Linked DNA regions of Homo sapiens: region 2 is linked to region 1. Evidence: fine-mapped expression QTL. Tissue or cell type: tibial artery. Region 1 holds a variant in brackets; the other region holds the start of a gene. All regions are shown on one strand. Distances are between the middles of the regions.

Region 1 (5,146 bases):
TTTTTAAGGCAGGGAGAATAGGAAAACACATATTAATAGAGCATCTTCAATTGCCTTTCTTTTGGTATCTTTAGGAAGGTCACTAGCCAGAGTTAGAGCATCTGAGTAATTAAGATTGCTGGGAGTGGGGTGAAGGGGGACAATAATAAGCTCCATATCACTAAACTGGGTGTGATGAGGTGGAGATAAGAACAGTAGGATAGATGTCTGCAACACACAAAGCCTCAGTAAGTAATAGGTAAGCAATAAGCAATAAGGTAGATGTGTGAATACCAGTGCCGTATGCTGGGATGATAACATATTAGCTTATATGGAGCAGGCCTCTCAAAAATAAATTTGCTAATTGTGTGGCATATAGAAAAAATACAAAAAATATATATGGAAAAGAGAGATTAGTGTGGGGTAGAATATTGAGGAGTGGAAGAATAGCCTCTTTATTGGTTATATTTCTGCTATATTTTTGTTCTTAAGCCTAGTTTAAATAGAATTCTTACCTCAGTCTGAGATTTTAGTACATTAAAATGCTTGCTGATCCTGTCTGCCTTTTTGTGTGAAATATAAAACTTATGAAATTCAAATATGTCGTCTGTTCAGTGGTGCTGTGCGTTTATTTATGATTGGAATAATTTTAGCTACTAAGTAAGTAATTAGCTTTGCTAGCCTGAAAGACTTTTTTCATGACTAGTCTTGACTTGTACTGTGTATATTATTGTGTGTATGTGTGTATTATTAATACAAGTGTGTGCTGTGACGATTTGATTTGGTAGGATTGAGACCAGAAGAATCTAGGTCTTGTGTTTTAGGTCAGTGGTCTTAGACTAAGCTACTTCGTTTTACTGTTCCCTAGCAGAGACATAAAACTATGGCATAATCTTCTTTATATGGTGTACATACATGGGGAGCGTCCCCAGGGTTTGACTATAATTCCTCAGAGTTTCCCTTATAGGACTGGCTGGACAATGGCCCAGAACAAGCTATTCAACAAGATCCTCAAAGCCCTGCAGTCTGACCGGCTTGCCCGCTTGGCCAACGAAGGGGTAAGACACCAGCAATCCGCCCACAGTGGGCTCTTCGTAGTTCAGGCCTCACTGGCTGACTGACTTGTCCCCCTGCTTGTTAACCAGGTAGTCCTCATGTTTTATTACTTCCACTTACATCCTTCAGGCTTGTAATGAGCCAGTGCTGCGCCGTGTTGCTGTGGACAAGTGTGCAAGGAGAGTGCGGCAGGCTCTGGCAAGTGTGAGCTGGGATACCAAGCTGATCCAGTGGCTGCACACCACCCTTGTGGAGACCTTGAGTCTGCCCATGCTGGCAGCCTACCTGGATGCTTTGCAGACGCTGAAGGGGAAGGTAAGGCTGTGATTGGGGTCTGCCCTGTCCTAGGGATAGCCATCCTCCCCTGTGGGTTCAGGATGTGGGGTTAGGCAAAGTAATTATCTGGTCGGTCTGGAGTGCATGGCCAAAACTAATGGGTTTGGTACTAAAATTGGGAGACAGGGTATCATTTCACATTTGTGTCTGGTGTAAACGTTTTCAGCCCTGCTGGCTCCAGGATGAGGTATGGGGCCTGAAAACCAGAGTATACATTTAGCCTTCCTAGCCTTGCAGCTTGTGGTTTGAGTCATGGCTGAATTGAATTATCATGAAGGAGACGAAGGGTTTACCAGGGAAGAGTTTGTTGAGAAAGGTGACAGAAGCAGACCCTTGGTGCTCGGAGCACTGGGAGATTGCAGAGCAGGAACGTGCCGTGATGCCTTCAATTCTGCTCCCCAGGGCATGAGCCTTTAGTAGCAACACTTAGACTTTTATAATTCAGTACAAACATATCATTATAGTTCCCTGCTTTCTTACTTAGTATTGCACAAAGTTAAACTGTTTTTCTTGGTGATTCCAGTGATTGCATCAGGCTATCGTCAATGTGGTAGAATGCGGATGCTGGAGGCAGATTGCCTGGCTGATCTCAGCTTTGTTACTGATTAGCTGTGTAAGCTTGGACTGGTGTCTCATCTCTAAAATGTGGCTGATAATAATAGCTATCTAGGATTTTTATGAAAATTAAATTAGTTAATTCAGGTAGGGGGCTTAACACAAAATTGGGCACATAGTAAGCAGTGAGCCCACAGTAATTATTATTACTAATATTAACAGTTATTTAAGTAGTACCCTCATAGGTTCTTGAAATATTTGGGGTGTTTTGCTCCAATACAAAATGGCCTCACGGCCGGGCATAGTAGCTCATGCCTATTATCCTAGCACTTCGGGAGGCTGAGGCAGGAGGATCGCTTTAGCTCAGGAGTTTGAGACCAGCCTGAGCAACATAGCAAGACCTTGTCTCTACTAAAAATAAAATAATTAGCCAGGCATGGTGGCACACGTCTGTAGTCCCAGCTAGTTAGGAGGCTGGTGGGAGGAGGCTGTAGTGAGTTCAGTCCCACCACTGCACTCCAGCCTGGGTGACAGAGGGAGTCCCTGTCTCTAAGAAAGAGAGAGAGAGAGAAGAGAAAGAACCAAATCAATCCAAGTTGTCTGAGGCCTTTTTTTTTTTTCTTTGGAGACAGGATCTTCCTCTCTCACTCAGGCTGGAGTGCAGTGGCACTATCATTGCTTGCTATAACTTCGAACTCCTGGGCTCAAGCAATCCGTCTGCCTCAGCCTCCCAAGTACTGGGACTAGAGGTGTGTGCTACCACCACACCCAGCAAAGAAATTTTTTTTTTTTTTTTTTTTGAGACAAAGTCTCACTCTGTCGCCCAGGCTGGAATGCAGTGGC[A/G]CGATCTCGGCTCACTGCAACTTCTGCCTCCTGGGTTGAAGCAATTCTGCCTCAGCCTCCTGAGTAGCTGAGACTACAGGCGTGTGCCACCCCGCCCAGCTAATTTTTTTTGTATTTTTAGTAGAGATAGGGTTTCACCATGTCTCGATCTCCTGACCTCGTGATCCGCCCGCCTCGGCCTCCCAAAGTGCTGGGATTACAGGCGTGAGCTGCCGTGCCCTGCCACACCCAGCTAAATTTTTAATTTTTTTGTAGAGACGGTCTTGCTATAGGCTCGTCTTGAATTCCTGGCCTCAAGCAGTCCTCCCATCTTGTCCTCCCAAATTGCTGGGATTACAGGCATAAGCATGATTCAGTTTTTGACACTTTTTTTTTTTTTTTTAATAGTTTTACTTTCTGCTTCACAGGAAGCTGGCTCATCTTGCTGCTGTAAGTTGCCTGGCCAACACGTTCCCTCAGCCACATCCCCAAAACTTGCAGACTCATTGTTTCTTATGTGTTTTTAAGTTAAAGGGTGCCAAGTTTGTTAGAAGACTGGTTTAGTGCTGAAATAAAACTCAGGACTAGATACATTAATGATATTCATGGTAGGAAATTTGACACTAGTTTTTTTGTTTAACTAATACTTATTTTGGGCCCTACGTGTGTCAGGTACTGGGGTGAGCAAAACAAAACTGGTCCCTTCTCTGGTGGAGTGTATTTTCTAGTGAAGAAAGAGACAAATGAAAAGGGAGTCCCAGACTTTCCCCTGTACTGCTCCCCTGTAGTAGAAACCCTGGACCCGGGAGGTGAGTGGTGGGCAGGTAGAGTGTGGGGCCCAGACTGGATCCTGGCAGACAGAGAGTGGTGGCCCAGAAGTATCGTAGGCATCTTCACATATGTTCTCCTCAGCATTCTACCTACGGTAAAAGTGTAACATTGGTGAATACACTGTAGGAGATGAGTGTTGGTAGTGGCCAGGGTCTCAGTTCTCTGGTGACCCTGCTTCACTCACTGTGGCTAGCATAATTTCCCTTTAAGGAGGAATTTGTACTGCTGCCCTATTTAAGTTACTGACTGGACATCTCCTGGGTGCATGTCGGATATTATGAGCATGGCAGACCACTGGGGGGACTCCATAGCATGCATAGTTGGGTGTTTTCCTCCCATGCTGCTGGGCCACGGTGTGGGTTGACTGGAATAGTGGAAGGCTCGCTGGTACACCAGTCAGCAAGGGCCTCAGACTCAAGGCAACATCCTCTCTGGGCTGTGCTCTCCGCAGTGGTTCCTCTGCCATCGGACTCTTATTTTCCCATGACTATATTTAGATTCACAACAAATACTTTGGTTGTTTCCCAAAGGATATAAATGATTATAGGATTGTTTTACTTTTAAAGTGCCTGCTGGATGTGAAAGCGCAGGTGGATGGGATCATGCTCTTCACCCAGCTACTTTCACTATTAGATCCATTATGATAAAGAGGGCAGAGAAGGTATAGACCTTAGCCTTTTAATTGGCTGTTGAGAGTGAATGCAATGCTGGAAGGGCCAGGGAAGCTTGGTCTTCCCAGCTCCAAGTGGAAAAGTCAGTATTGATTTTTTATCCCTTGTTGACAGGAAGCAAGTGTCAAGGCTTTTTGGTTTCAAAGCTATATACTACTGTTAGATAAAGCTTAACCCAGGGTCACATCCTTTGCCTCAAAGTGTTGAGTGGCTCACAGTTCTAGAGTGAGTTACAAAGAACATGAAGATCCTTTGCAGTTTGGTCTTATCCTTTGCGGTTTGGTCCTATCCTTCCTACTGGCTTTTTACATCCTCCTCCTTCCTTACTTGCATCCTTGACTTTTGTCCATCTGTGCCTGGAATAAGCTCTACACATTCTTGCCTCTTGCTGGTGTCTCTGATGGGAAGGCTTTTCTCTCATCTTCTGTTGGAATCCTGCCTGTTCCAAAGAGCCTGTCTCATTTCACATGCTGTATCTTTAGATGAAAATTGCCTCTTAACTTCTTCTCCATTGGGTGGTTTGAATCATAGCAGTTTGGGCTTCTGTTTCTTTCATGGCAGTTATCGGTCTTTCCCTATTCCTGTCCCCCACCATTATTTGTGTGTTTGTCTTCCTTACCTCTTGTAGATTAAATTCCTCTGCAGTACTAGCCTGGTACCTTGTAAAAGCAGTTGCACGAATATTTCTTTCCTGAGTTAAACTGAGAAAGTCTAATGGTTATAATTCTCTAATTTCTCATACAGAAATCCTTTTAGTGTCCCTGTTTTTAAATTAAGAGCAACTTATCTTCTGCTATTTTTGGAGTTTTACAACTTGCATCAAACCGTAGTACTTTTTATTCTCCAATTTTTCAAAACCTTTTTCTTTCTCTGAAAACTGCCTCTAATATTTAAAC
Region 2 (5,146 bases), 200 kb before region 1:
ATACCAGGGGGCTTTGCCACTTCTTGGCCTTACAGCTGGCAGCCTTTAGGGTCAAGTCCATCCAACACCCTGGGGTGCTCCCACCCTCACCCTACAGGAGTGCAGGTGTGAGAAGCATGGCTGTTAACCAAGGTCTGAGCACCAAACTCTGGGGAGCACCACTAAGGATGATGTTGGAGAGGACTGCAGAAGAAACCACACCTTCACATCCGGAGGGTACTGGTTTTACCTTCAATCTCCGAACTGCTCAGCTAAAACAGTGAAGGGAGGGATGAAAATGTGGAGTTAAGGGAGAACTTGAGACCTTAGGGTTAGAAAAGAAGAGGTGAGGCTGGGCGCGGTGGCTCACGCCTGTAATCCCAACACTTTGGGAGGCCAAGGTGGGAGGATCACTTGAGGTCAGGAGTTCGAGACCAGGCTGGGCAAAATAGTGAGACCCTGTCTCTACATAAAATTTTAAAAAACAGGAGATTAAAAAGCAAAAAAAAAAAAAAAAGGGCCGGGCACAGTGGCTCACGCCTGCAATCACAGCACTTTGGGAGGGCGAGGCAAGTGGATCACCTGGTCAGGAGTTCAAGACCAGCTTGGTCAACGTGGTGAAACCCCATCTTTACTAAAAATACAAAAATTAGCCCGGAATGGTGGGGTGCATCTGTAGTCCCAGCTACTCGAAGGCTGAGGCAGGAGAACTGCTTGAACCTGGGAGGCGAAAGTTGCAGTGATAAGAGATCGGCCACTGCACTCCAGCCTGCGCGACAGAGCTGGGAGAAAGGGAGACTAAGTCAGCATAAATGGAGTTACTTTTGGTGAAAGCAAAGTGTTAAGTTTCCCTGACTTTACCGCAGATAAGGGATTGACACCTAAATACCCTTATCTGCAGTAACGCCAGGGACCTTAAGAATGCTCTGAAGGAAACATTACAGGTCCAGTCAATTTGATATTACATGTGTGCACACAACAATATCCCAGATACCTGGAGACTACCATCTTTTCTATGTTCTTCTAGTTTCTATCCAAAAATTTGGACCTGCTACAAAGTCAAGCACACAGAAACACTCTGGGAGAGGGAAAGAGCTGGGGGATTAGAGGACAAGCGGACATACCCCTCCCTGCAAATGGGGGGGGGGGGCTATCCTGACGCGGGGGTTAAAGTGTTCGCTGTCTAAAGGATTCCTCCCACTCTGATCGATGGCCTTTAAGTATTTCAAAAGGTCATTCCAAGCTGCAAGGCCAATACCGTCTTGAAAAGGGACCTTAGAGGTCTCACTGCTCTCCACAGGGGTGGGACCCTTTCCAGAAGGCTTCCATAACTCTCCACCCCTTTTCAGGGAGAGGGCACTCGCACGGGCGTCCCCTGCACCATGCCCGGGCCGTTACCTCGCTTGAATTCCTCCAGGACAGCGTCCAGCTTGGTGTCGTTGAAGACGAAGTGGAGCGGATGGTTGTAGAAACGAGTGATGGTGCTGAGCGGCGTGCAGTCTTCGGGATCCACGAAGGCCAAGTCCTTGAGGTAGAGCATGTCCACGATGTTGGAGCGCTCCTCCTCGTACACCGGGATGCGCGTGTGGCCGCTCTGCATGATGCTGGCCAGGACGCCGAAGTCCAGCACGGTGCTGGCGTCCAGCATGAAGCAGTCTTCGAGGGGCGTGAGCACGTCCTCCACGGTCCGGCAGCGCAGCACGCCCTTGCTGAGATCGCTGTAGGGGTCGCCGCCGCCGCGCGCCAGCTCCAGCACCCGCTCCCGCAGCCGCCCGGGCCGCGCCGCCAGCTCCAGCAGCTGCCCCACGGGCAGCGCGACGGGCAGAGTGAGCAGGACGGCCAGGCGGCTGAGGCCGAGCGCTCGCGGCGCCAGCGCCAGCGTCCAGCGCCCGCTCACGGCGGCCGGCACCACCTCTCCCACCAGGAACACGAGCCCCGCGCTGCCCAACACGGCGGGCACCGCACGCTGGCCGGCCGCGCGGTACAGCAGCACCGCCAGCGCCGCCTGCGCCAGGCTGGCCAGCAGCAGCAGCGCGCCCAAGGCGCAGCCGGCCCAGCGCCGCGCGGGCTCCAAACGCCGCGCCGCCGCACGCTCCGCCTCCGAGCCGCTCTCGCGCAGCACCTGCACCTCGGCAGGCGCCAGCGCCAGCGCGCTCAGCTGCAGGCCTCGCGCCAGCGCTGCCAGCGCCAGCAGCCCGGCCGCCCCCAGGCCCAGAGCCCAGGGCGGCGCCGCCTCCTCAGCCGCCCCGCCACCCGGCTCCACGCGCACCGCCAGCAGCGCCGAGTGCGGGCGCACGGCCTCGGCCCGCAGGCGCAAGCGCAGCAGCGCGCGCCACTCGCCCGCGGGGGAGGCCGCCTCCTCCCGGCAGCCCGCCCCCTCCGGGGCCACCCAGGACCAAGAGCTGTTGGCGAAGCCCGGGCCGAAGAGGCGCAGGAGGAAGGTGGCGTCCGGCGTGTCCCGCGCCGCCCCTCCGCGTACCCAACCCGCGCCCGCCGCTCCATCCTCCTCCAGGCAGAAGCCCAGCACTCGCGGGCCCGGCGCGGCCTCCCCCGCGGCGTTGCCCAGGCAGAGCGCGGCGAACAACCAGCCTAACCGACCCGCCGCAGCTACCGCCGCCGCCATCGCCTGCTGCCCCCTCTCGGCCTCTCGCGCAGCCTACCCCGCTCGCCCCGCGCCTCCCCGGGCCAATCGTTACGGCTCTTCGCGCCTCCTCGGCCAATAGGCGGTGGGCGGGGGCGGGCCCCAGGGTCGGACTAGGCTGCGCCGGGGAGTAAACAAGTGGCGGCCAGGGGCGGGCCGGGGGCGTGGGGCTCCGGGCCCCGCCGAGTCTGCTGCGGCTCCGGATGCGCGGGGTGGCAGTGGCCGGGAGGACGCGGGGCGGCGGGCAGGGCCTCCCAAGCCCGGCTGTCCTCGGCCCGTGCGCGGCGCCCGGAGTCCCACTCCTCCCGATGCTGTCCCCCGCGCCCGGAGGCCGAGCCAATTCTCTGGGAAGTTCCCGGCTTGGGAGCGGAGCGGCCGGTCGGAAGAACCTCGGGTGCTGGCGCGCCTGAAGTTGCAGACCAGACTGAAATGTGCGAGACATGTGCCTTTTTCTTAGGAAAGGCCCCAGGTACCAGAAAGGTTTTCAGCGCGCCGACCTACGGGGCTAAGAGGGCTGAAATAAGAACCAGTGACTGAGCGCCGGGAGGTTTAAGGTTTATGGAAGATGTTCATCGCGCCGTACCCTACTAGAGGTTTGGGGACGTGGGACACAGCCCCTGCGTTCCCGCCGCGGACCCCGTGATAAATACACAGACACACAAAATCACTACCGCCTTGAATCTGGACAGCTACCTCAGGTGGTTAATATCTAACAGGAGCAGAGTGGAGCTCAGAAAGACTCAGCGTGGGTGCTGGGTTCCGGCGCGACCAGCCTGATACCTAGGTCAGCATCTCAGCCACACAAGCAGGCGGCAGTTCTGTCAGGAATTACTACATCTGGTGATTCCACTTCTCATAGCTCACCGCTGGGAGAATAATTCCTCAGGATTAACAAGATCTATTCCAGAGGATCCTCACTGCTGAAGCGATTTTAGAAGACAGTGTGGTCTGTTGACAGTATGGAATATTCTTTACCCATCAGATATGATCTGTATGTGATTGGAAGGAAATAAACCAACTGCTAACAACACTTCTCTATAGATGTTCAGATTCAGTAATTTTTGTATTTTTCTCTACACTTTTGTTTTTTCAAATTTCCTAGCACAAGAAGACTTTGACTTACTGCACATGTCATTTTAAATGACCTTTATAAAGACTCTATAGAAACAATTTGCTATGTCATGAAAGTAACAATCAAAAAAAGTATGCACATTGTGGCCACAAAGTAAAACTTGTGTGGAAGGTAATGTGCAAAAAAAAAAAAAAATGAGTAAGCTGGTGGTGAGTGACCAAAGGAAAAGGCTTTGTAAAAAACTTTTTTTTTTTTTTTTGAGACGGAGTCTCGCTCTGTCACCCAGGCTGGAGTGCAGTGACGCAGTCTCGGCTCACTGCAAGCTCCGCCTCCCGGGTTCACGCCATTCTCCTGCCTCAGCCTCTCCGAGTAGCTGGGACTACAGGCGCCCGCCACCACGCCCGGCTAATTTTTTTGTATTTTTAGTAGAGACGGGGTTTCACCGTGGTCTCGATCTCCTGACCTCGTGATCCACCCACCTTGGCCTCCCAAAGTGCTGGGATTACAAGCGTGAGCCACCGCGCCCGGCCTGTAAAAAACTTTTTAAAAGATGGTAATAGCTGGCCGGGCACGGTGGCTCACGCCTGTAATCCCAGCACTTTGGGAGGCGGAGGCGGGCGGATCACGAGGTCAGGAGATCGAGACCATCCGGACTAACATGGTGAAACCCCATCTGTACTAAAAATACAAAAAATTAGCCAGGTGTGGTGGCGTGCACCTGTAGTCCCAGCTACTCGGGAGGCTGAGGCAGGAGAATGGTGTGAACCCGGGAGGCGGAGCTTGCAGTGAGCTGAGACCACGCCACTGCACTCCAGCCTGGGCGACAGAGCAAGACTATGTCTCAAAAAAAAAAAAATGGTAATAGTGGCCCGGCGCGGTGGCTCATGCCTGTAATCCCAGCACTTTGGGAGGCTAAGGCGGGCACATCACGAGGTCAGAAGATGGAGACCATCCTGGCTAACACGGTGAAACCCCGTCTCTACGAAAAATACAAAAAATTAGCCGGGCTTGGTGGCGGGTGCCTGTAGTCCCAACTACTGAGGAGGCTGCGGCAGGAGAATCGCTTGAACCCGGGAGGCAGTCGGAGGTTGCAGTGAGCCAAGATCGCACCACTGCACTCCAGCCTGGGTGACAGAGCGAGACTCCATCTCAAAAAAAAAAAGGTAATAGTGTATTTTTAAAAGATGGTAATAGTGTCTCTTCTGCATTGTAAACTCAGAGCTGTGACTAGGCCAATGGGGCATCTCCGTGTTTTTTATTATTCAGGTGATGTTCTGTGCCCTTTGAGTTTACCTTACTTTTGCAGATTACAGAGTAAGCCGCCAGCAGAAGCAATAAAGACATTACTGGGCCTTTGCACTGCAACATCATGCCTCTGAAGAAAAAAAAAGTGCAAACATTACAATAGATTCAGCTCCTTTAGTTCTCACTTCTGTCTCCACGTCAAGATAAAA

Alleles and levels. Positions count from the first base shown, and alleles are read on the strand shown. Sizes are in standard deviations (SD) of each study's normalised expression.
With allele G in place of A in region 1, the expression in tibial artery of the gene that starts at base 2,612 in region 2 is higher (moderate effect, 0.41 SD a copy in GTEx).

What was found. PIP is the estimated chance that this variant, and not a neighbour inherited with it, causes the effect.
Region 2: CNNM3 starts here. The variant in region 1 is fine-mapped to the expression of CNNM3 in tibial artery (GTEx, PIP 0.96).

The regions. Positions count from the first base shown.
Region 1 is chr2:96,615,563-96,620,708 of GRCh38, reverse strand. It overlaps KANSL3 (KAT8 regulatory NSL complex subunit 3), which reads left to right. Exons shown (of 21, transcript NM_001115016.3): 4 at 947-1,037; 5 at 1,165-1,350. Among named protein-coding and RNA genes, the nearest start is that of KANSL3, 20 kb to the left of the region's middle. The variant A/G (reference allele first, on the strand shown) is at 2,770.
Region 2 is chr2:96,813,734-96,818,879 of GRCh38, reverse strand. It overlaps CNNM3 (cyclin and CBS domain divalent metal cation transport mediator 3), which reads right to left and starts at 2,612. Exons shown (of 8, transcript NM_017623.5): 1 at 1,378-2,612. The coding sequence starts at 2,602. RefSeq lists silencers at 1,756-1,865, 1,876-2,015, 2,026-3,005 and an enhancer at 3,346-3,465.